Linked DNA regions of Homo sapiens: region 1 is linked to region 2. Evidence: fine-mapped expression QTL. A gene starts in region 2. The other region holds a variant in brackets. All regions are shown on one strand. Distances are between the middles of the regions. Region 1 has its middle 11 kb from the start of MIR8071-2. Region 2 holds the start of MTA1-DT (MTA1 divergent transcript).

What was found.
Region 1: its variant is fine-mapped to the expression of MTA1-DT in esophagus muscle (GTEx, PIP above 0.99).

What each region holds. Positions count from the first base shown.
Region 1 is chr14:105,644,875-105,657,058 of GRCh38, reverse strand. It overlaps IGH. Among named protein-coding and RNA genes, the nearest start is that of MIR8071-2, 11 kb to the right of the region's middle. The variant C/G (reference allele first, on the strand shown) is at 5,552.
Region 2 is chr14:105,412,459-105,424,642 of GRCh38, reverse strand. It overlaps MTA1-DT (MTA1 divergent transcript), which reads left to right and starts at 4,904. Exons shown (of 2, transcript NR_125385.1): 1 at 4,904-5,621; 2 at 6,334-7,062. MTA1 (metastasis associated 1) reads right to left here and starts at 4,816. Exons shown (of 21, transcript NM_004689.4): 1 at 4,580-4,816. The coding sequence starts at 4,607. TEX22 (testis expressed 22) reads right to left here. Exons shown (of 4, transcript NM_001195082.2): 4 at 10,784-12,184. RefSeq lists enhancers at 1,934-2,603, 2,604-3,271, 5,950-6,619, 12,035-12,184 and silencers at 4,723-4,982, 5,073-5,122, 5,153-5,252, 9,288-9,697.

The sequences.
Region 1 (12,184 bases), 230 kb before region 2:
CAGTGGATCTACCATTCTGGGGTCTGGAGGACAGTGGCCCCCTTCCCACAGCTCCACTAGGCAGTGCCCTGGTGGGGACATTATATGGGGGTTCAACCCCACATTCTCTTTGGCACTGCTCTAGTAGAGGTTCTCTGTGAGGGCTCCATGCTGGCAGGAGGCTTCTCTCTGGGCACCTAGGGTTTCTCATACATTTCTGAAATCTAGAGTGAAGATGCCAAGCCTCCTTCACTCTTGCATTCTGGGGGCCTACAGGCTTAACACCAGATGGAAGTTCCCAAGGCTTATAGTGGCTTGCACTCTCCAAAGAAGCAGCCTAAGCTGTACTTGGGGCCCTTTGAGCCAAGGCTGGAGCCAGAGGAACCAGGATGTGGAGAGCAGTGTCCCAAGGCTGCACAGGCAGCAGTGGCCATGGGCATGGCCCACAAAACCATCCTTTCCCTCTTGGCCTCTGGGCCTGTTATGGGAAAGACCACCTCAGAGATTTCCGAAAGGCCTTCAAGGCCTTTTTCCCTTTGTTCTGGATATGAGCACTTAGCTCCCTTTTAGTTATGCTAATCTCTCTAGCAACTGGCTGCTCCATAGCCTACTTATATTTGTCTCCTGAAAATACCTTTTCTTTTCTACCACATGGCCAGGCTGTGAATTTTCCACATTTTTTATGCTCTGCTTCCCTTTGTTGATGAAAAAAGCCAAACTCCATAAAACACTTGACGAGATTGATTCTGAGCCACATGTGAGAGCCATGAACTGTGGCACAGCCTCAAAAGGTCCTGAGAACACCTGTGCAAGGTGGTTGGGTTGCGGCCTGCTTTTATGTTTTAGGGAGACATATCAATCAATACATGTAAAGTATACATTGGTTTGGTTTGGTTTGGAAAAGCAGGACAATTCAAAGTGGGGAATTCCAAATCATAGGTGGATTTGAAGATTTTCTGATTGGCAATTGGCTGAAAAAGTTAAATTATCTAAAAAGTTGAAGTCAGCAAAAAGCAATGCTTAAGATAAGGGGGTTGTGGAAGCCAAGTTTCTTGTTATGTAGATGAAGCCTCCACGTTCCAGAGAGAAGAGATGGTCAATGTCTCTTATCAGAACCTAAAAGGTGCCAGACTCTTGGATAAATCTCTCCTGAATCAGGAAGAGACCTGGAAAGGGAAAAAGATTCTCAACAGAATATACATTTCCTCCACAAGAGACGGCTTTGCAGGGCCCTTCCAAAATGTGTCAGAGAAATATATTCTGGCATAAAATACTTTAATTTCCTTCCATGCCTGCCACCTGTCATGTGATGCTATACCAGAATCAGGTTGGGATTTGATATCTTATTGCTACAAAGAGTCTGCTTTGTCAGTCTTAAGCTCCCTGTTTTAATGTTAACACTGGTCAGCTGAGCCTAAGCTCCAACAGGGAGAGGGTATAGTGAGGGAGTCCAAACCACCCTCCCCTTCCTGTCATGGCCTGAACTGGTTTTCCAGGTTTCTTTGGAATCCCCTTGGATTAGCATTTTATTTTGTCGTTTACACCTTTTAAATATAAGTTCCAACTTTAAGTCATTTCTTTGCTCCCATATCTTACCATAGACTGTTAGAAGCAACCAGGTCACACCTTAGAAACATCTGCTTAGAAATGTCTTCCACAGATGCCCTAAGTCATCACTCTTAAGGTCAACCTTCCACAGATCCCTAGGGCATGAACACAATGCAGCCAAGTTGTTTCTTAGGATTTAACAAGCGTGACCTTTACACCAGTTCCCAATAAGTTTCTCATTTCCATCTGAGATTTCATCAGCCTGGCTTTCACAGTCCATATGTCTATCAGCATTTTGGTGACAACCATTTAATAGTCTCTAAGAAATTCCAAACTTTCCCTCATCTTCCTGTCTTCTTCTGAGTCCTCCAAATTCTTCTAACCTCTCTGCCTGTTACCTGATTCCAAAGCTGCTTCCACATTTTCAGGTATCCTTATAGCAATGTTCCACTCCTCAATACCAATGTTCTGAGTTAGTCTATTTGTGTTACTAGAAAAAAAAAAAAAACATGAATCTGGTAATTTATAAAGAAAAGAGGTTTGCACCAGGCACTGTGGCAAGGAAGGGAGGATTAACTAGCTCACAGTTCTGCAGCCATTCCGGAAACACGGCCCTGGCATCTGCTTCTGGCGAGGCCTCAGGGAGATTGCAATCACGGCAGAAGGCGAAGGGGGAGCAGGCATGTCACATGGCAAGAGGGAGCAAGAGAAGAGAAGTGGCACGTCCTAGACTTTTAAACAACCAGCTGTCACAGGGACTAACTGAGGGAGAACTCACTCATCACCTGGGAGATGGTGCTAGGCCATTCATGAGGGGTCCAGCCCCATGATCTAATCACCTCCCACCAGGCCCACCTCCAACACTGGGAATCACATCTCAACATGAAATTTGGAGAGACACACATCCAAACTATTGCACCACAGGAAGCTGGAAGAGGTGGACGGTCCTCCCCTGGAGCACTCAGAGACAGCCACCAACACCTTGATCTCAGATTCCTGACTCCCAGAACTCTGAAAAAATTTTTGTTGTTTTAAGCCACATTTGTGATATTTTGTTACGGCAGCCACAGCACGGATATAGCTGGTAACAGAGTTCTTTAGCCTCCAAAATACAAGCCTGGGGTAAATAACTATTGAATTTGGCCACATGGAAATCAGGAAGAATGTAATAAGCATCATCGATGGACGGGATGACCTGGGAGATCGTGGCAAGTTTAAAGCTAATTGGAAGTTGGCAACCAAAAAATCCTGTCTTGCAAATTGCCAGGAAATTGCCAAGAAAACTTTTAGAAAACATGGTTAAAGATGGAGAAACCTGGATGAATCCCTGGTTTCTGAAGAGGTGCTTAGGCATTGAAGTGAGACTGATGAGACTTCACACTGTACCTTCAGAAGGGCAGACACTCACGAGATCATCAACCACGGCTCCCTCGCTGGGAGGCAGACACAGAGCTGGAGGCGGCGGCCACAAACTAGGTGGGCAGAGAGGCGTCAGCATCGGGACTTGCGGGAGGCCCTGGGAAGGAACAGGCAGCGGTGGGGCCTGGACAGCCCTGGGGAAAGGAAGTTACTTGGAGGAGACCAGGGGCTTGCATTTGGGCCAAAACCAAGGACAAGAGATCAGCTGGTCCCAGGGAACTCTGGAGCCCAGCACCCCACCACGGGTGCAGGGTCCTGACAACCCGAGAGGGCTGTGGGCACCGGGCACCAGCCTGTGGGGATTCTGAAGGCTGCTGCCCAGCCACACGTCCCGGTTCTGAACAAAGGGTTCAAGAGACACCTGCAAACCTACCTTTCTGAGAGCAGCCTCTTAGCCTCAGCTGGTATTGGCCTTTGGTCACCCCACATGCCCCGACAGTGGGGCCTGGCCTCAGAAAGGGGCCCCTCCATTTGTACTTTCTATCTGATCCTTGACACAGTGCTAACACCAAAGACCAAACCCGAATCTTGGTTCACATACTCTGCAAAGAAATGACTAAGACTAGTTCTTCCGGAGGTCAGTTTTAGAACGTTTATTCTGACTTAATTCTGCCTTATCTCTGTGCACCAAGAAAACTATCTGCACATCTGTAGTAAAATGTGAAGGTACCTTCATTTTGTTTGTATACTAAACTTTTAAGAAATACCTCACTTTTTAAAACTTGGTTTTGTGTTTTGTATGCTTATAATATTTTCCATAATAGATCATTTTAATGATGAACTCTGAGTCTTCTGACAGAATGCAGATCAATGGATTCCTAGCCATCAGGGAGGCGTTGATTGCAAAGGGGCCTGGTGGAATTTTTGGAGAGATTCTACATCTTCTTGCAACTGTTCATCTGGATTACGGTGGTGGTTGCATGACTGTGCATTTGTTGAAACTTACATGTCACAGGATGGATTATACTGAATGTAAACTACACTTGAGTAAATATGACTTTTAAAACTTTAAAAAGTTGGGGGATGGTTCACTGCCCCGGCTCGAAGCCCCCTGGCCACGCTGCCTGGCCAGCCCACCCCCATCCCTGCCAGCGCTTGCCTCCAGCGTCCCAACAGCCTCCTGACCCCCTGGGCTGCTCTAAACCCTCAGGAGCGCAGCCATCCGGGATCAGCTGGATGGAGATGGGGAGCCCGAGACTCGTGCCACACCACGTCCTCCCGCCCACACCAGCCACACGCAGACGTCAAAGCAGCACTGTCCTCGCACGCACTGCTCCCACCCACCCTGGCACGGCCATTCCAGGCCTGGGGCAGGAAGGCAGATGCTCCCCCTGCCCCCAGACACAAGCATTCCTGCACACACCCCCAGCACACACACGCACTCCCATGCGCACACTGACACACACAGGTGTGTGCAGCTGAGACACAGCCCGTTCCCAGGAAGCCCAGCCCCCATCACTGAGGGAAAGGGGCAGCACCGTAGGGCCACAGGAGTGGCAGCTGGACACAGAGCCAGGAGCTGGTGAAGGCCCAGGCCACTGAGGCGGGCTGCCGGCATGGCTGGGCGTGAAGGCCAGAAGAGGGCAGGAGGGGCTGGGGGCACTATGCCTATTGGGCCTAGGTGGGCACACGCCGGGCAGGAGAGGAACAGCCCAGCCCCTCAGACAGGAAGGGGTGGGGGCAGGGGCCATTTGTGGAGGCCAGGGCAGGGCCAGCACCCCAAGGAAAAGCAGAGCAGGGTGAGAACGGACATGGGGCTCAGAGCTGAGCAGGCCTGCTGGGCCCCAGGAGGGAGACACAGATGACCGGAGATCTCAAGGCTGGCAGAGGCCAGAGATGGAGCCCCAGCTGGGAAGCCATCCTCCTTCCTGGGGGCCCACGCTGCCCGGCCCCTCCAGCCCAGCAAGCTTGGGGCATTGGATAGAACCGGGAGAGAGCCGACCAGGCACTGAGGCCCCTGCCCCAAATGCCCACAGCCTGGGGAAAATGAGCAGGTACATGGGAGGGGCAAGTGGAGCCCCAGGCACACCCACACAGTGCACACGGCCTCACCTGGGCCGGAGGGGGCAGGAGGCTCGCCACCCCGCTGTGGTTTCTCTCCTAATCTCACCCTGGGTTTCTCTCACACTTGATGCAGATGATGTTTCTCTGACATTGTGGACTAAGAGTTGGTGCTGGAAGGGGTTAGCCATCTTGGAGATGTTGCTATGGGATGCAGGGATTTTGCGTGTGAGAAGGACATGATTATGGGGGGAACGGAGGGCAAACTGTCATGGGTTAAAATGTGTCCCCTATAAATTCATGTGTTGAAGTCCTAACCCCCAGGACCGCAGAATGTGACCTTGTCTGGAAACAGTCTTTGCAGCTGCAATCAAGTTCAGATGAGGTCACCCTGGAGTAGGGCAAGCCTCTGATCCAATATGACTGCTGTCCTCATGAAAAGGGGGAATCTGGGCACAGACAGCACGTGGGGAGAACGCCCTGTGAAGATGGTGCTGCTTCCATAAGCCAAGAGCACCAGAGACGGCCGGCAAAGCCCAGCAGCAAGGAGAGAGCCTGGGACAGAGTCTCCCATGACACAGAGGAGCCAGCCCCACCGAGGCCT[C/G]CATCCCAGATGCCCGGCCTCCAGAACCAGGACGGAATAAACGTCTGTTGTTTAAGCCACGCAGTCTGGGGTGCAGTGTTGCCAGGGCCACAGTTAACGGATACGAGTGTTGTCCTGAGCTGCCAGCCCCACAGGCTGCACGAGGCCTCCCTGCCCCAGCCCAGTGCAGACTCCCCAGCCCCCTGGGTGTGCCATGGGCAGTGGGGGGCCCCTCACTCCGTCCTCCCCCAGCCTGGGAGGTTGAGCCCATTATGAGCTCCATGGGGTGAAGCTGGAACGAGAGGCTGGGAGCCGACTGGGAGCCTGCGGCTGGAGGATGGATTTCCCCAGGGACCCACACGTGCACCTCCACCTGTCTCCTGGACATTCTCTCTGAGGGCAGGGCTGGTGCCAGCTCAGGGATCCAGCAGGGTCACAAGGGCAGGCCGGGTCCTTGTGGAGAGCACATTTAGTGGGAGGGACATGATTTCCCTTCAAAGTGCCCATTCTGGACGCTTCCCGTTCCATGCTGGACGCTTCCTCTTCCACGCTGGATGCTTCCTGTTCCACGCTGGATGCTTCCTGTTCCACGCTGGATGTTTCCTGTTACACTCTGGATGCTTCCTGTTCCACACTGGATGCTTCCTGTTCCATCCTGGATGCTTCCTGTTCCATGCTGGACATTTCCTGTTCCACTCTGGATGCTCCCTGTTCCATGCTGGATGCTTCCTGTTCCATGCTGGATGCTTCCTGTTCCATGCTGGACATTTCCTGTTCCACTCTGCATGCTTCCTGTTCCACTCTGGATGCTTCCTGTTCCACACTGGACGCTTCCTGCTCCACGCTGGACGCTTCCTGTTCCATGCTGGATGCTTCCCGTTACATTCTGGATGCTTCCCGTTCCATGCTGGACGCTTCCTGTTCCACGCTGGACGTTTCTTGTTCCACTCTGGATGCTTCCTGTTCCACGCTGGATGCTTCCTTTTCCACGCTGGACACTTCCTGTTCCGCGCTGGACACTTCCTGCTCCACACTGGACGCTTCCTGCTCCAGGCTGGACGCTTCCTGTTCCATGCTGGATGCTTCCTGTTACATTCTGGATGCTTCCCGTTCCATGCTGGACGCTTCCTGTTCCACGCTGGACGTTTCTTGTTCCACTCTGGATGCTTCCTGTTCCACGCTGGACGCTTCCCATTCCACTCTGGATGCTTCCTGTTCCATGCTGGACATTTCTTGTTCCACTCTGGATGCTTCCTGTTCCATGCTGGATGCTTCCTGTTCCATGCTGGATGCTTCCTGTTCCATGCTGGACGTTTCTTGTTCCACTCTGGATGCTTCCTGTTACATGCTGGATGCTTCCTGTTCCATGCTGGACGTTTCTTGTTCCACTCTGGATGCTTCCTGTTCCATGCTGGATGCTTCCTGTTACATTCTGGATGCTTCCTGTTCCATGCTGGACATTTCCTGTTCCACTCTGGATGCTTCCTGTTACATTCTTGATGCTTCCTGTTCCATGCTGGACATTTCCTGTTCCACTCTGGATGCTTCCTGTTACATTCTGGATGCTTCCTGTTCCATGCTGGACATTTCCTGTTCCACTCTGGATGCTTCCTGTTACATTCTGGATGCTTCCTGTTCCATGCTGGACATTTCCTGTTCCACTCTGGATGCTTCCTGTTACATTCTTGATGCTTCCTGTTCCATGCTGGACATTTCCTGTTCCACTCTGGATGCTTCCTGTTACATTCTGGATGCTTCCTGTTCCACTCTGGACGCTTCCCATTCCACTCTGGATGCTTCCTTTTCCATGCTGGACCTTTCTTGTTCCACTCTGGATGCTTCCTGTTCCATGCTGGATGCTTCCTTTTCCATTCCGGACACTTCCTATTCCATTCTGGACACTTCCTGTGCGACACCTCCTCGGGCTTTTGGTCTGCCCAGTCCCTCTGGCCTCATACCATCCCCCCTTACCTCCCACTTCCACGTTCGTCCTTCCTCAGCTCCTCCCTCTCTCTAGAGCTTCGGCCTGGCAAGGTCCCTCCTGATCTCAGTCCAGGCTCCCCCAGCACAGGTAGGAGACTTGCACCTGCCCTTGGACCTCCCCACCCTGCATGATGCCAGCATCCCCCAGGCCCCAGGGAGGCCCCATTTCTCTCTCTGCTTGTAGTCCAGTGGCCCTGGAGTGCCACTGCAACTCGGGTGTGCCCCTCGCCTCTGAGGAAGCTAAGTGCCCTAAGCTAAGCAGAGGCCATCCCCTCTGCTCAGCCCCAGGGCCCTGCCCCCTACCCCTTCCCCTCACCTGCACCACAGGCTCTGGCCAACTCTGCCCAGGCTCTGAATGGGCCCCTCTGGCTCCCCTCTGCTGCTACACTGCCCTGCACCACCTCCACTCAGCTTCAGTGTGTTCATCCACCTGTCCCACGTCCCCTCGGCCCCCAGGAGCACAGCTGGTGGCCCTGGCTCCTGGCAGCCCATCTTGTTCCTTCTGGAGCACCAGCCTCAGAAGCCTTCCTGTGCAGGGTCCACTCGGCCAGCCCTGGGACCCTCCTGGTCTCAAGCACACACATTCTCCCTGCAGCCAGACCTGCCCCTGCCTGTGAGCTCAGACCTGAGCCTTGGAACGCCTTCCCTTCTCCATCCCAGCTCGCCTTTGCCAGCTGCTCAGCGGGATGAACTCACACTCCCCTCCCTGCACCATGAGTGAGAGCCAGCTGGAGAGACGCCCAGGCCAAAGCAGCCACCAGGGCCCAGTGGGGGTCAGAAGCTTCAGGTGAGAGGCCCAGGTATTGAGAGGCTGAGACCACGGGCAGAATGGTCATAATCACTGCCAGTATCAGTCCAGCCCCAGGGACTCAGAGACAGAGAAAAGAGCAGTGAACAAGGTCCGGGCTCCCCACCTTCTCCCACGAGTATGGGGGCAGCCACCACCCCCATCCCCACACACCCATGAGGCAGCCTCGGCTGTGTCTGGACTCCCCCTTACCCTGTGACACAGAAACCACCAGAAGAAAAGGGAACTTCAGGAAGTAAGCGGTGCCGCCGGTTTCAATCCTGTTCTTAGTCTTTGCAGCGTGGAGTTCACACCCCTGGGGACCTGAGGGCCGAGCTGTGATTTCCTAGGAAGACAAATAGCAGCTGACGGCGTGGGCAAGTCTGCCCACATGTACCGCGCCAAAACAGGAAGGGCTGAGACCCCCACCTCGGTGAGTAGGGTCAGCACAGGGCAAGGGCACAGGCTCGGGAGGAGAAGGACAGAGCCTGGGTGCAGCCGTGGGCGCTCCTGGACCTCAGCTGCTGAACAGGCTACAAGAGGCTGGGGAGACGTGGGGGCAAGGCCAGCCCCACATGGAGACCCAAGCGGAGCCAGCACGGGGGAGGTGGGCAGCCTTCAGGCACCAACGCCCACCCAGTGCAAGATGACGGGGACCGTGGGCAGGGGCTTCCAAGCCAACAGGGCAGGACACACCAGAGGCTGACTGAGGCCTCCATGACGACCAGGCTGGGAGCACGAGGAACCTGACGGGATGCGGCAGAGCCGGCCGTGGGGTGATGCCAGCATGGGCAGGACCCACCTGAGCTGAGGAGGCAGTAGAACGAGGGAGGAGGAGAGGCCCCAGGTGAACGGAGGGGCTTGTCCAGGCCAGCAGCATCACTGGAGCCCAGGGCAGGGTCAGCAGTGCTGGCCGTGGGGCCCTCTCTCAGCCAGGACCAAGGACAGCAGGTGAGCCGGGAGCAGAGCAGGGAGGGTGAGTGTGGCAGCAGGACAGGAGGGTGGAAGCCAAGGAGCCCAGAGGCAGAGGCAGGGACAGGGGAGGCACAGGGGCTAGGCTCAGAGCCACCTGATGGCGCTGGGGCACCTGCTGGCGGGGAGCAGGGCTGTGGTCAGCAGCGGAGTGGAGGGGAGAGCTGTGCTGAGTGCACAGATGGGAGGAGGGAAGAGTCCAGGGAGGCCCAGAAAGGCCCAGAGTGCAGCAGGCCTGGGGCGAGGGGAGGGGTGAGGCTCCGTGCGTTCAGGGAGCTGACCCAGCAGAGCAGAGGCCACTGAGGAGCTGAGGTTCTGGAGAGGCTTCCAGAGCAGGAGCAGTGCAGGGACGGGAGGATCTGGGAGCTCACCCAGGAGGGGCACATGGGCAAGGGCAAGGGGCTCTGTTGGGGAGACCTGACTGGACACTGGGGCTGCTCCACAGCATAGGGAACAAGCCAAGTGCTGCAAAAACAAAAATGAGGCCAGAAAAACAGCCCAAACCTGGACAGAGGGTGCCAGGACAGGCAGGGGGGCAACAGTGACCTGAGTGACATTGCTGCCCGGGTTGAGGGAGGGCAGAGTGAGCAGGGGGCAGGCATTGGAGTTCAGGGTACCAGGACCGAGCAGCCACAGGTGAGCAGGGCAGGTGGGGGCAGAAGGAGCAGGGGGCACCTCCTGGAGCTCAGCAGACCAGGGCAGAGCAACTGAAGGTGAACAAGGGCAGGTGGGAGGCAGGATGAGCAGGGGGAAGACCCTGGAGCTCAGGGGACCAGGGCAGAGCAGCCTCAGGTGCCTCAGGTGAGCAGGGGCTGGTGGGTGGCAGGACGAGTAGGGGACAGCTCCTGGAGCTCAGGGGACCAGGACAGAGCATCAAGAGCTGAGCATGGCTAGTGGGAGGTGGGCGAACAGGGTGCAGCCCCTGGAACTCGGGACCAGGGCAGAGCAGCGGCAGGTGAGCACGGGCTGGTGGGAGGCAGGAGGAACAGGGGGCAGCTCTGGGACTTCAGGGGACCAGGGGAGGGCATCTGAAGGTGAACAGGGGCTGGTGGGGGCAGGAAGAGCAGGGGGAAGCCCCTGGAGCTCAGGGGACCAGGGCAGAGCAGCCACAGGTGAGCAGGGGCTGGTAGGAAGCAGGAGGAGCAGGGGACAGCCCCTGGAGCTCAGAGCACCAGGGCAGAGCACCCTCAGGTAAGCAGGGGCAGGTAGGAGGCAGGACGAGCAGGGGACAGCCCCTGGAGCTCAGGGGACAGAGGAGAGCATCAGAAGGTGAGCAGGACTGAGGCTTAGCCTCAGGGAATCAGAGCAGAGCAGCCACAGGTGAGCAGGGCCGGTGGGAGGCAGGACGAGCAGGGGACAGGCACTAGAGCTCAGGGCAAGGCAACCACAGGTGAGCAGGGCCGGTGGGAGGCATCACTCAGCTCCTAGATTTTGGCAGGAGCTGGGTAGTTGCTGGCAGCAGACAGCTGAGGGCTGGTGAAAGTGCAGTGCAGCCTCCTGGTGCCAGGAAGGGAGTGTGAGCCCATCCCACTGAGCAGTTGGCAAGGGTGAGCTGGGATGGAGAAGGGAAGGCATTCCAGGGCTCGGGGCTGAGCTCTCAGGCAGGGGCAGGTGTGGCTGCAGGGGGAATGTGTGCTTGAGACCAGGAGGGTCCCAGGGCTGGCCCCAGCGGACCCTAGGCAGGAAGGCCTCTGAGGCTGGCGCCCCAGAAGGAGCAAGATGGGCTGCCAGGAGCCAGGGCCACCAGCACAATGAAGCTGAGTGGAGGTGGTGCAGGGCAGTGTAGCAGCAGAGGGCTGCCAGAGGGGCCCATTCAGGGCCTGGGCAGAGTCAGCCAGAGCCTGTGGTGCAGGTGAGGGGAAGGGGTGGTGAGCGGGGCCCTGGGGCTGAGCAGAGGGGATGGCCTGGCTGAGGGCAGGGCACTTAGCCTCCTCAGAGGTCAGGGGCACACCCCACCTGCAGTGGGACTCCAGGGCCACTGGGCCAGCGGCAGAGAGAAATGGGGCCTCCCTGTGGCCTGGGGGTCCTGGCACCACGCAGGGTGGGGAGGGCCAAGGGCAGGTGCAAGGCTCCTACCTGTGCTGGGGGGCCTGGGTTGAGCCCAGCAGGGACCTTGCCGGGGGAAGCTCTGGAGAGAGGGAGGAGGTGGGCTGGTGGCCGAGAAGGCCAGGCCAGGGCTGGGAGGGTGAGGTTGTGGTGACTGAGCCTCCAGAAGTAATGCAGGACACTGGGAGGCAGGGGGCATCCAGGCACTCAGGGCCCTGACCTGGGCTGCTGCACACTGGGGCTAAGGGGAAAGGAGGGGAGAGGCTGAGGAGGAGGCTCCAGGAGGCTATTCCAAGGCAGGGGGTTCCGGGGCCCTGGGGCTGAAGGGCGCCGACCCTATGCAGTGTCTGGCCCCTCTGCTGCACAGAAGAAAAGGGCCTTGGAGGGCAGAGGGCAGGCTATGACCAGGGCCCTGGGCAAGTCAGGCCCACTCACTAGCGGAGGGCCACGCTGGGGCGGCAGGGTCAGGAGCTTCAGGGGACTCGGGGGACCCACGAGAAGCCATCTGAGAACAGTGTCCACTGGTCAAGCCAGGCACCCATAAAAGGCTGGAGTGGGGCCAATGGGCATGAGCCGTCCCTGAGGTGGCACCGATGGCCAGAGCTGAGGCCAAGCTAGAGGCCCTGGACTGTGCTGACTCCCGGCAGGCACAGAGCGCTGACCTGGCTGCCGAGCCCCGCCTCCTAGGCTGCAGGGGTGCCTGCAGAAGGGCACCACAGGGCCACCGGTCCTGCAAGCTTTCTGGGGCAGGCCGGGCCTGACTTTGGCTTTGGGGCAGGGAGGGGGCTAAGGTGACGCAGGTGGCGCCAGCCAGGTGCACACCCAATGCCCGTGAGCCCAGACACTGGACCCTGCCTGGACCCTCG
Region 2 (12,184 bases):
ACACCTGTAATCCCAGCTACTCAGGGGGCTGAGGCAGGCAAATCACTAGAACCCAGGAGGCGGAGGTTGCAGTGAGCCGCGATTGTGCCACTGCACTCCAGCCTGGGTGACAGAGTGAGACTGTCTCAAAAACAAAAAAAAAAGCCAGACGCAGTGGCTCACGCCTGTAATCCCAATACTTTGAGAGGCTGAGGCGGGTGGGTCACAAGGTCAGGAGATCGAGACCATACTGGCTAACACAGTGAAACCCCGTCTCTACAAAAAAAAAAAAATTACAAAACATTAGCCAGGCATGGTGGCGGGCGCCTGTAGTCCCAGCTACTTGGGAGGCTGAGGCAGGAGAATGGTGTGAACCCGGGAGGCGGACTTGCAGTGAGCCCAGATTGCGCTACTGCACTCCAGCCTGGGGGACAGAGCGAGACTCCGTCTCAAAAAAACAAAGGTGGAGCAAGCCAGGAGTGCTCAGTGGCTGAGGCAGGAGAAGCTCAGTGGCCCATCCTGCCTGGAGAGTGAGCCAGGGCTGCCAATGGCGCAGTGCTGAGGCCGATCCTCACAGGCCAAGTGGGACAGCCCCATGCCATCCCCTCCAGGACATCACACCTGGGCCCCTGCCACTTCTACCACTCCCGCTCCTGGTGCTCACAGGACGGCCGTGTCTCCAGGGCTCTTCCCTGCCTTCTTGGAAAAGATGGGTGGGACCCCAAAAGTCGGCCCATGGAGCAGCAAGTGCCTAGGGACACGGTGCACTCAGCACTCCAGGGTAGGGCGGCGCTGGCTGCAGCCCTCTACAAATCTGACATTTTTTTTAAGTTTACTTTTTTCCCCACTGGCAAGTATATAGAGCAATAAAGTTTAAACTTCAAAAAAACACTAGAATAAAAATACAAAAGCAACATTTCTAACAGCGCGCCAGAGCGCAGATGATGGCACATGCCAAGCCCAGTGAAGACCAGCAGCACGGACAGGGTGCTTCCGCCCAGGCTGCGCCAGAGACCGGGGCAGAGCCCGCGGCCCTGCAGGGGCAGGGGCTTTCTGGCATCCTTTCAAACTACATTAAAATTTTTTTTTTTTGATACGGAGTCTCACTCTGTCACCCAGCCTCAACTTTTATTAAAATTAAAACAAAAAGGCCGGGCATGAGCTCACGCCTGTAATCCCAGCACTTTCGGAGGCCGAAGCGGGTGGATCACTTGAGGTCAGGAGTTCCAGACCAGCCTGACCAACATGGAGAAACGCCGTCTCTACTAAAAATGTAAAACTTAACCAGGCCTGGTGGCGCCTGGCTAGTCCCAGCTACTTGGGAGGCTGAGGCAGGAAATCGCTTGGGCCGGGGAGGCGGAGGTTGCAGTGAGCCGAAATCGCGCCTCTGCACTCCAGCTTGGGCCACAGAGCAAGACTCCATCTCAAAAAAAAAAAAAAAAAAAAAATTAAACAAAAAAAATCCAAAAGATGGGGTGTTAACCTCTTGCAATGAAAAACAGAAACACCCAAGGCAAAATGGTAATGGCCTGTCCACTGAAAAGCAGAAGCCCCACATGAGCAAGCTGCAGGCGGCTGGCAGGCACCGATTCCTGCTGTCCTGTTTTGGATGCTATCTAACATCTTCATGTTCAACCCAGAGAAGAAACATCCCGCCGTTGCCCTGGGGCCCTCTCATCCCACAGCAGGTTTCAAGCCTTCCCCAGCCCTCGGGATGGACAACCCTTGAGAAGCAGAGGTCAGGGAACCCTGACCCCGCCACCCTTGCCCAGGCCATCCGCTGCCCTCACAGGCACAGACAGAAGGCCTCTGTCCGTGGCCAGGGCACTCCATGGGGAAGAAACAGGCCCTGTTCCCTCCCTGCTCACCACTTCACCCAGCTCAGCTGGCACAAAAATACTGCCACCACACCTTCACCCTGCCTAGCCCAACCTGGCAGGGCCTCGGAGTAGCCTGCCAGCTAAAATACGGGTTGCCCAGATAACTGTGAATGTCAGATAAGAATCTTCTGGGACAAGTATGTCCCATGCCATATTTGGGACATACTTACACTAATAAATTTCTGTTTATCTGAAACTCAAATTTGCCTGGGCGTCCTGTACTTTTCTTAACTAAATTTGGTGCCTCTACACACAAGGTCCCTGGGGTGGGGGGGCACAGGAGCAAGCCCCTTCCCAGGCTGGGTCCCTGCCGGCATCTCCCACAGGCCAGGACTGGCCACCCAGATGGAGCCCGTGCCAGGCAGCCGGCGACAGACGGACAAAGGCTGCTCAGGAGACACTGCACACCTTCCTCTTTCTTGTCTGGGGGCTCAAGAATCCAGACGCCCACCTCCCCGAGCGAGCACCAAGACAGGAAGCCAACCTGCAATGCCCAGCCCACTGCGACCACAGGGCTCTGCCGGGGTCCTGCCGGAACCCAGGGTTCCGGTCCAGAAGCCAGGGATAAATGCCGCTTCTCCTATAGGGACAGTCAGAGTAGAGAGGGGGAGGCCTACAGTCTCACCTGCAGGGAGAGGAAGTCCTCGGGGCGGGCACGTGGGGGGCCTGACAGCTCCGAGCACACCCGGCCACAGTGACCACGGACTGCACACGCAGAAGCAGTCTGGATCCCACGCGTGGCTGTGCTGCCAGCAGACAGCACCCAACCTCCCATGCTCCTCATCACAGGAAAAGAGACCAGCAGCATCTCTGCCAGGCATGGTGGGGCCCCTCCGCCACAGCCTAGGAGTCCAGGCCACCCACCCTCACAGCACTGGAGTGCGTGGGTCAGTGAGGCCCTGGGACGGGCCTGCGGGCACAGGGGGACAGAGGGTTCGGGGAGGGCGGCGCAGCCCCACGAAGGGCTCCTCCCAAGCCTGTGTGGGGCCCAGGGGAGCTGCACCTCCGGGATGGGACAAGGCAGGGTCCTGGCTTTCATCAGCCACAGCACAGCTGCCACAGGGCACAAAAGGACGGCTGAGAGACGAGGTCCTCACCCACACCATGGGGAAACCGAGGCATGGGAAGGTTGGAGGGGGGGCAGCCAGGCTGGCGCCAAGATCACAGGCAGGCAGGCCTGAAGGCCGAGCAATGCAGCCACTAGGAAGGCATGAGTTGGGGTCGGGGTGTCCCCAGCCCTAGAGCCCAAAGCTGCCACCACTCCCCACCCCCAACATGGGTGGGGGCAGGGAGAGCTCTTCTTGGGACCAATCCCAAAACCATGCGCAGTGGGCCCGGCTGGAGCCCAGGCAGCAGGCATCCTCTCTGCCAGGGTGAGAAACTGGGCCCTCATGTCAGGCTGGAAGGGGGGTCTCCAGGTGGGGAGAAAGAACAGGAAGGAACAGGCCCCTCCCTCGAGGGACCCCGCACCCAGGCTGCTCCCTGAGCGTGGGGTGGGCTCAGCGCACCTGGGTCCACACAGGGACCTGGCAAAGCTGTATGAGGCTGTGGGAGGGGCTGCCGCTGGATGGGGTACAGGCCCACCGCCCCTCTGAGAGGACAGGGGAGGCCCAGAGCTGCTGATGCGGACTGACCGCCCATCTCACAGACGGGATGTAGGGGGCTCCCACCGTCCCCAAGGTCACAGGACTGGCCGGCCAGACCACACGGCGTCCAAGGCAGCAGAAGCCACGCTCGAGAGACACAGAGTGTTCTGGGCACTCGGGGTCAGGGGCATGGGGATCAAGCCAGAGCGGGAGTGACCCCAGCTCCCTCCAGCAGCGCAGGCTGCAGGTGGGAAAGGTAATGAGCACCTGCCCGAGAGGGTCACAGGCAGGGAGGGGTCTCAGAGTCCTGGGGAGGGAGGCGCTGATGGAATGATGGAATGCACACGACCCCCCACCTTCCTGTGAAAGACCCCACGGAGTCCCAGGCACACGAAGGAGGGCAAGGCTCAAAGCTGCAGGCCCGGGGGGCCCGAGCAACAGGAGGCTGGGCCCACGGAGGAAGCCCCTGCCCAGGAGGCCCTCCGGCCTCTCCCCAACCCTTGCAAAGCGCCTCCCGAATGGGCTGAGGTGAGCGAGAGGCAGGGAAAAGTTTGGGGGGACTTAGAGGCGTGCTCGGGATGCTCGCTCCCTGCTGAAGACCCCCTGAGGGATCCCTGCTGGGGGAAGCCCCGGGGCCAGGCTGCAGGAGGGCTCTAGGGAGGAACGTGGCCCCTCACCGGGGCTCCCCATCCCCAGAGGGGATGCACCGGAGTCCCAGCACAGGGCCGCGGGCCGGGGGAGACCCCACAGCCCCAAAACTCCTGCTCCCAGACCGGCAGCCGGCGCCTCCCAAGGCCACGTGCTCCCGCTGGGGGCTCCCGGCCCCGGACCCCCGGATGTCCCGCAGGCCCCGCGCCCCCCCGCCACCCCCGCGGCCGCCCCCTCGGCCCCAACAGGTGGGCCGCCCCCCACCCCCGGGCCGCCGAGCCCCGCCCGCCCCCGATGGGGCCGACCCGCGGGGCCATTTTGGGTTGGGGTGAGCACGGCGGGGGGCGGTTCGGGAAGGAGCCGGGGGCCGCGAGGGCGGGCGGGGGGCGCGGGGCCTGCGGGGCAGAGGGGCGGGGGAGGCGGCAGCGGCGGCGGGTGGGGGCTGCGGGCGGGTCGGGGCCGGGCATAAAGGCGGTGCGGCCTTACCTCCGACCCTGTACATGTTGGCGGCCATGTCCGGGCCGGCGGCGGCGGAGGGGCCCGGGGCGGGCGCGGCGCTCGGCGCGGGCGGCCGGGAAAATGGAGGCGCGATGGCGGGGGCGGGGGGCGCCGCAGGCGTTTAAAGGGGCCGCGCTGCTGCCGCCGCCGCCGCCGCCGCCGCCGCCGAGGCCGCCGAGGCCGCGCAGGGACGGGAGGGCCGCGGCGCGGGCGGGAGAGGAAGAGGAGGAGCGGCCGCGGGCGGCGGGGAGGGGCCTCGGGCGCCGCCGCCCACCGCACGGGCCGTTACCGACCCCGCGCCGCCCGCGGCCCGCGCGCCCCTTCCCGGACAGTTCCTCTCGGCGCCCCCGAGTCCTCCCCGCGCGCCGCTTCCCGGGTGGGCCCTTCCACCAGAACCCCCTGGTAGATCCTCCCCTGGTGCCCTGGGGGTAGAGGGGAGATCCTCCACAAGGGCCATTTCCCTGGTGATCCCTCCCTGTGCCCCACAGGTGAGTCCTGCCGTAGCTCTCCAGGGGTTCCTCCTGATGCTGGGGTCCTCCGGCATTCCTCCCTGAGCCCCCCAAGGGCCCTGAAGCTCAGCGGCCCAGCCCTGGCCTCGGGGTCCCCACCCCACACCTCCCTTCCAGGCCTAACCTTTGCCCCCGACACCAGGCAGGGCGTGTCCTTGGCCTTCGCCGCCCAGCCCGCGTGGCATCTCTGGACAGGTGGTCGTGCGCGCCTTGGTGTGGGCAGGCTCCGTAGCCGGCAAAGCCTCCCTGAACCGTGACCTGGTGAGAAGGCCGCAGAGGAGGTGCCTGTGCCCAGAGGCCACCTCCAAAGACCCCACCTGAGGCTGGAACCCAGCGCCTGCTGACCCCGCCAGCCCCAACAGGGCTGGAGTCCAGGAGCGGCCGTGCTCTTTCCGCAGTGAGGCAGCTGCCTTCTCTTCCCACCACCTGTCAGGATGCCTTCCCGTGTGTGCTTGTGCACAGGTCTAAGGAGAGGAGAGTCCAGTGAGTGACCCAGACGCCCCAGCCAGGAAGAGCATGAGGTGCGAAGGGGGCTTCCCAGATGGAGAGAAACAGATGGTCCCAGAGTGGCTTGGAGACAGGTGCAACATCAGTGTTGGGGGAGGTGAGCAAAAGGAGCTGTCTCGGGGTTCCAGGCTGCTGATGTGAGCAGCACCGTGGGTCTCTGTCCTGCCTGCTCAGATGCTGGAGGGAGCTGACATCTACTTGGGACATCCCTCTCTGTAGGACATGGAGCGGAGCGTTCAGGGCTATCAGGAGGGAGCCCCGTGGCCACGGTGCAAGATCTAGGCAGGCGGGACAGACATGGTCAGGATGCTGGGGACACAGCATGGGGAATCCAGCACACAGGACACCATCCAGGTGGGTAGGAAACAGCATGTGCTGGGAGGAAAGCCAGGTGGGGGTCCCAAGGAGAGCGGTGGCCACAATGTCATGGCTGCAGAGCAGACCAGTAAGGAAAGCCCCACCAGGGTTAGCACAGGGCCAGGAACCCGAGCTGCAGGGCGGTGCTGTCTCTGGGGAGAGAGGGCTATGGGTCCCAGGACACATCCTGCGGGCTGGGCTGCAGGGAACAGGAGCTGGCTTGCTGGTGATTGGGAGGGAAGAGCAGCCAGCCAGCGGCCAGGTGCAGGAGAGGGGCAATGACAGACAGGCAGCGTCTCTCCAGAAGGAAGGTGGGGCTGCTGGCCTCCCCTGTCCTACAGCCCCAGCCTACCTCTGTCTCCTCAGCAGGAAAGCAAAGCTGCAGCCTGAGATCTCCTTCCACCAACTCCTGGCATGGCCAGAAAGTTAGCCAGAAACACCAGAAAGTGCCAGGCAGCTAGGAAGCATGGGGAGAGCCCCCTGAAGCTGCGTGTGTAGTGCCTGCTTCCGCTGCCATCCCAGAAATGGACGAGCTTCACCCTGAGAACCCAGCCACACCACTGGGACACATCCTGACAGTGACATGCACACTCTTCCCTGGCCCCAGCCTGGAGAGGAGCCTCCTGAAGACACCAGCCTTTGCTCCTTCTCCCAGTGGGAGTGGAGAGAACTGACTGCTGGAGTGGAGACAGTCAAGGCTGTCCTTCTGAGGGAGCACAGCACAGGGTCTGGTGTCCCAGGGAGGCAATCTGAAATTCAAGCCAGGCCTCCCCAGCGGAGAGGACACACCCCTCACCATGCAGAGTGACGTTTAGTAAACTCTCAAAAGAGAGCACAGAGCCCCACTCCTCCAGCCGACCCATACTCTGCCTCCCCACTCCAGACCAGTGAACAAGGTGGATTGCCCTTAAGCCAGCTCAGAGGCAAAGTCCAAAGACCTCAGGTGAGTCAAACAATAAAAACAAAGAATTAAGAAGAATCCAGCTGGGTGCGGTGGCTCACGCCTGTAATCCCAGCACTTTGGGAGGCTGAGGCGGGAGGATCACGAGCAGGAGGTCGAGACCATCCTGGCTAACACGGTGAAACCCCGTCTCTACTAAAAATAGAAAAAATTAGCTGGGCGTGGTGGCGGGCGCCTGTAGTCCCAGCTACTCCGGAGGCTGAGGCAGAAGAATGGCGTGAACCCAGGAAGCGGAGCTTGCAGTGAGCCGAGATCATGCCACTGCACTCCAGCCTGGGCGACAGAGCGAGACTCCGTCTCCAAAAAAAAAAAAAAAAAAAAAATCCATCCACTCCATCCACTTAGTAGCAGAGCGAATAGACATTCAGGAAAGAGCTTTCACGTCAGAAAGCACTACAGAAGTAGTGGCATATCCCCGGAGGCTGAGGTGGGAGCATTGCTGAGAGGTGGCACGTGACCACATCCATGTCATTCAACAACAGAAAAACAAGTCATCGAGGGTGTGAGGGGCCGGTGAGAAACCCAGTATGGAAGAAAACACAACTGGGCTGAGCGTGGTGGCTCACGCCTGTAATCCCAGCACTTTGGGAGGCCAAGGCAGGAGGATCACCTGAGGTCAGGAGTTCGAGACCAGCCTGGTCAACATAGTGAAACCTCATCTCTACTAAAAATACAAAAAAATTAACTGGGTGTGGTAGCGCGTGCCTGTAGTCCCAGCTACTCCGGAGGCTGAGGCAGGAGAATTGCATGAACCCAGGAGCCGAGACCACACCACTGCACTCCAGCCTGGGGGCGGCACAGTGAGACTCCGTCTCAAAGAAACAAAAATAAAAAATAAATAAATAAATAAATAAATAAATAAGAAAACGCAACCAAAGAAACAGAAGAGGACTCCACAGGACTTCTTTCAGAGCTTCATAGCAGCATGAATTCAACAATCAGGAATTCAAATGCTTGACGACAAAACAGCAGGATGGGAGGAAGAGTTAAGAGCCAAGCAAACCGGAAGCACCAAAATCGCACCGTGGCTGGATCAAGTCATAAACAGCAAAGGGCAGAATATCAAGTTACTTGGAGATGAAAGGCTTGAGATAATTTCAGAGCAAGACAAAGTGATTAACACAATAATTTACTCATTGATTATTTGTTAAACATCTACTTCAAGCTACAGGCCACTCTAGGCCTTGGAGGGTAAGGAAACAGCACCTTTGCCCTCAGAGGGTTTGCAATCTAGCAGGGAGGGGAACATAATAAAGTGTATAAAACCAGGGCTCTGGCTCTGAAGTTCCAGCACTTTGGGCAGGTCACTTGAACCCAGGAGTTTGAGACCAGCCTGGGCAACATAGTGAAAACCCATCTCTACTGAAAAATATAAAAATTAGCGGGGCGTGGTGGTGCATGCCTGTAGTCCCTGCTACTTGAGAGGCTGAGGCAGGAGGATAGCTTAGGCCTGAGAGGCATAGTTCGCAGTGAGCCGAGATAGCACCTCTGCACTGCGGCGTGGGTGGCAGAGCAAGACCCTGTCTAACAACAACAACAAAAACTGATCTTAAGTCCAGCCAGTAAAGATGTAAATCAAAACAAAGACTTTCAGTGGGTCAAATACTGGCGGTGAGCCTTGATCTTCTGGTAAGAAATGCCCTGCCAGGGGATATGGAAATGTCAGTGCCAGTTCCTCACCATTCACAGGCAGAAGTCAGCCGGTGCCGCCTCAGCCGAACCGTGCTTTGCTGCTGTAAACCAAACACACTCATCTCTTGATGTTTTTGTAATTTCTAAAAATAATCGTAGAAGACTTTTTTTTTTTTTTTTTTGGAGACAGGGTCTCACTCTGTCACCCAGGCTCAAGTGCAGTGGGCCTATCTCGGCTCACTGCAGCCTCGACTTCCTGAGCTCAAGCGATCCTCCCACCTCAGCCTCCCAAGTAGCTGGGACTACAGGAGAGCACCACCACGCCCGGCTGATTTTTGTATCTTCAGTATGGATGGAGCTTCCCTTTGTTGCCCAGGCTGTTCTCCAACTCCTGAGCTCAAGCGATCTGCCTGCCTTGGCTTCCCAAAGTGCCGGGATTACAGGCCTGAGCCACGGCGCCCGGCCATCGTAAGGAGACTTTTAAACTTGAGGTGAAGAAGCATTCATCTGCTTTTAGCAATTTTTTTCTTTAAATATTTAAAAGTCTATAAGTAGCAACTCGACACGTATTTCTGTATTTCCATTACATCCTTTTATCTCCCCATATACATTTAGAAATATCTGGGATAACCTTTAGGTAATGTTAACAGCTGTTATTCCAGGGAGGACACTGGGCGCGTTTTTAAAGCTGTATTCGTTGCTGTATTAATAGCAAGCGGTGTTTCTGCAAAGCCAAGGAAGGCGTTTCTCCAGCGGGGCCGCGTCGGGCATTGTCTGGTGCGCCGGGGAAGGCCGCGAACTACATCTCCCAGGCGCCCCGCGCCCCGTTCCGCGCCCCGCGCCCCCGCCCGCGCGGCTCCTGCTGTGGTGCCGGAGCGTCCTCGGCTCGGTCCGGAGCCAGCCGGAGTCACAATTCGAATCGGGCGTGGGAAGCCCGGGGGACCACGCGGCCAACCCTGGGCGGACCTGCGCGCCGGAGACCGCGTCCCCGGGAGCCCCCAAACGCTACCCCGCGCGGCCGCCCGTGGCGCTGCGGAGGCCTGCGGGTGGGGAGGCGCAGTGGCGGCCGGGGCGACGGCCTAAGCACCACACTACTGCTGCGAGACTTCGGGGGATCCCCACTCCCCTCCCAGGATCCTTCCCACTCCCCTCCCAGGATCCTTCCCACTCCCCTCCCAGGATCCTTCCCACTCCCCTCCCAGGATCCTTCCCACTCCCCTCCCAGGATCCTTCCCACTCCCGAGACTGCTTCTTCTGTCCCCTTGATTCCACGCGCCTCAGAGACCCTCCCTCTGCCGTCCCGCGAAGAGCGCGCCCCTCCCCTTGCAAGGTGGGCTTCACATGCGCTCCCGCCGCACGCACCCTCCTCTGCCCCCGGGTTTCCTGCCGGGCCCTCATGGTTTGGGGCTGCCCATGCATTGCGGGATCCTGAGCAGCACAGCGCCGCCGCCTCTGCCCACCAGGTGCCGGCAGCCCCTGTGGAAGGCAGAATGCCCCTCTCACAGATACTTGTGTACAAATCCCCAGAACCTTGGAGCAGGCTGGGTTAACTGGGTTAAGTGGCAGGTTAGGAAGGGGGCTAACCAGTTCACCCGAAAGCAGGCAGGCGACCCTGGATCTTCCGGGTGGGCCCAGCGTAGCCACAAGTGTGTTTCAGGGTGCAGGAGGGAGGCAATGGAGAGGTGGGCAGAGAAGGGCAGGGCAGAGAGGGGCTCGGCCGCTCCGAAGGAGGCCACAACTACCAGCCAAGGAATGCAGGTGGCTTCTTGAGGCTAGAAAAAGGGAAACAGGGTCTCCCCTGGCACCTCCAGAAGGAACAGAACTCTGCCAACCCCTCATTCTGAGCCCAAAGATACCCATTTTGAACTTCTACAAAACTTAGCTAATACATTTGTGTTGTTTTAAAACACTCAAAGCCAGGCACCAGTGGAACACTCATGTAACCCCAGCTACTCAGGAGGCCGAGGCAAGAGGATTGCTTGGGTCAAGGAGTTCAAGACCAGCCTGAGCAACATACCAAGACTGTTTCTCTATAAAAACTTACAAAAAAAAAAATAAAGGCCGGGTGTGGTGGGATGCACCTGCAGTCCCAGCTACCCAGGAGGCCAAAGTCGGGGGATCACTTGAGTCCAATAGTTCAAGACCAGCCTGGGCAACATAGCAAGCCTGCCCCCCGCTCCGCCCCAACCACCAAAAAAAGAAAAAAGAAAAAGAAACCAAACCTACTGAATTTGTGGCAATTTTTATGGCAGCTACAGAAAACTAGTACACAAATCCCAGTTGTGACAACCTAAGCGGTCTCCAGGCACTGCCCCTGTCCCGGCACCACCTCTGTTGGAGAGGCCTGTGCCTCTCAGTGCCAATACCCTGCTGCCAGCTGGCCCTGTGGCCACCTTACCCACCAGGAGACTGGCTCTGGGCCTCAGCCTGAAGGAGGCCAGGGTTTTGTCTCTGCTGCCACCATGGGGGAGGTGCTCTGTAGGGAGACCTCATGGAGCAGAGAGGGCAACCATCCCAGCATCACCAGCATCCTGGACCACCACGCTCTGACTGCAGCCTCAGGAGACACTCAAACGAGAGCAGGAGAGCTGGCAGGATGAGCCCAGCCAACCCCCAAGTCACAGAACAACGAGTGGTTCTTTAAAGCCACTCAGCAACAGAGGACTGCCCAGCTCATCACCCCCATGGCAACTGCTTACCTGTCAGCTCCGCTCTGCCCTGTTTACACCTGGGGATGCCTGCCTGGCATGCAGCTGGGCCCATAGGATCCCATTCCCCACATCATCATCAGGGGCCTCAGAGGGGGTGGGTCATGACCCAAAACTCCCCACACCCTTAAGGACAGTGCCCTGCCCAAAACTCCCCACACCCTTAAGGACACCTGCCCTAGCCCCTGGAGGATCTGCCCTCCATCCACCTACCCTAGGGCTCCTGAGAAATGCAGAGGATCCCTAGGGTGCACCAAATGACATTCAGAGGACTTGGGAGAGAAGGGGAGCACCTGGCTGTGTAATCTTGGAAGGCTTCCTGAAGGAGGAGGGAACTTCACTGAGTCTTACAGTAAGAAGGGGAGACAGGCAGGTGCAGAGGATTCAACTCGGGCCAGGGATCCTGTGTCAGGGCAGCAGGTGGCTGGCAGTGCAGTCAGGTGGCTTCTCAGCAGCGGGAAGGGGAGGGTTACAGGCCAGGTGGGCAGCACAGCCAGCATGTAGTGTATCTGGTGGTCCAGGCCACCGCACAGGTCCAGCTCCTGCCCTCACCTGGAGCCCAGGAGTGATCACCTCCGCTTGCCCCAAAGCCTCCTCCACCTAGCCACCTCCACAGAAGCCCAGTCAGGCCCCTAACAGTCAGTCACAGAGTTCAGGGCCCTTTCCCCACCCCCACCCACCCCGGGCTGGGAACCCATGCTCACAGCTCTCCTGCCCCGCCTCCCAATCCAGTCCCCCTGCAACTTAGTGTCCCCAAAATGCAGCTGGGACACGTTACCCCGGCTCAGCACCCTTCCGAGGGCCCTGCAGCCTGGAAACGAGGCAGTCACCCAGTGGACCATGTCCCACAGGCCCCTGCGGCAGCCAGCTCCTCACAGTTGCTCAGACCCCCTGCGCAGGATACCCTCTTGGCCCTCGT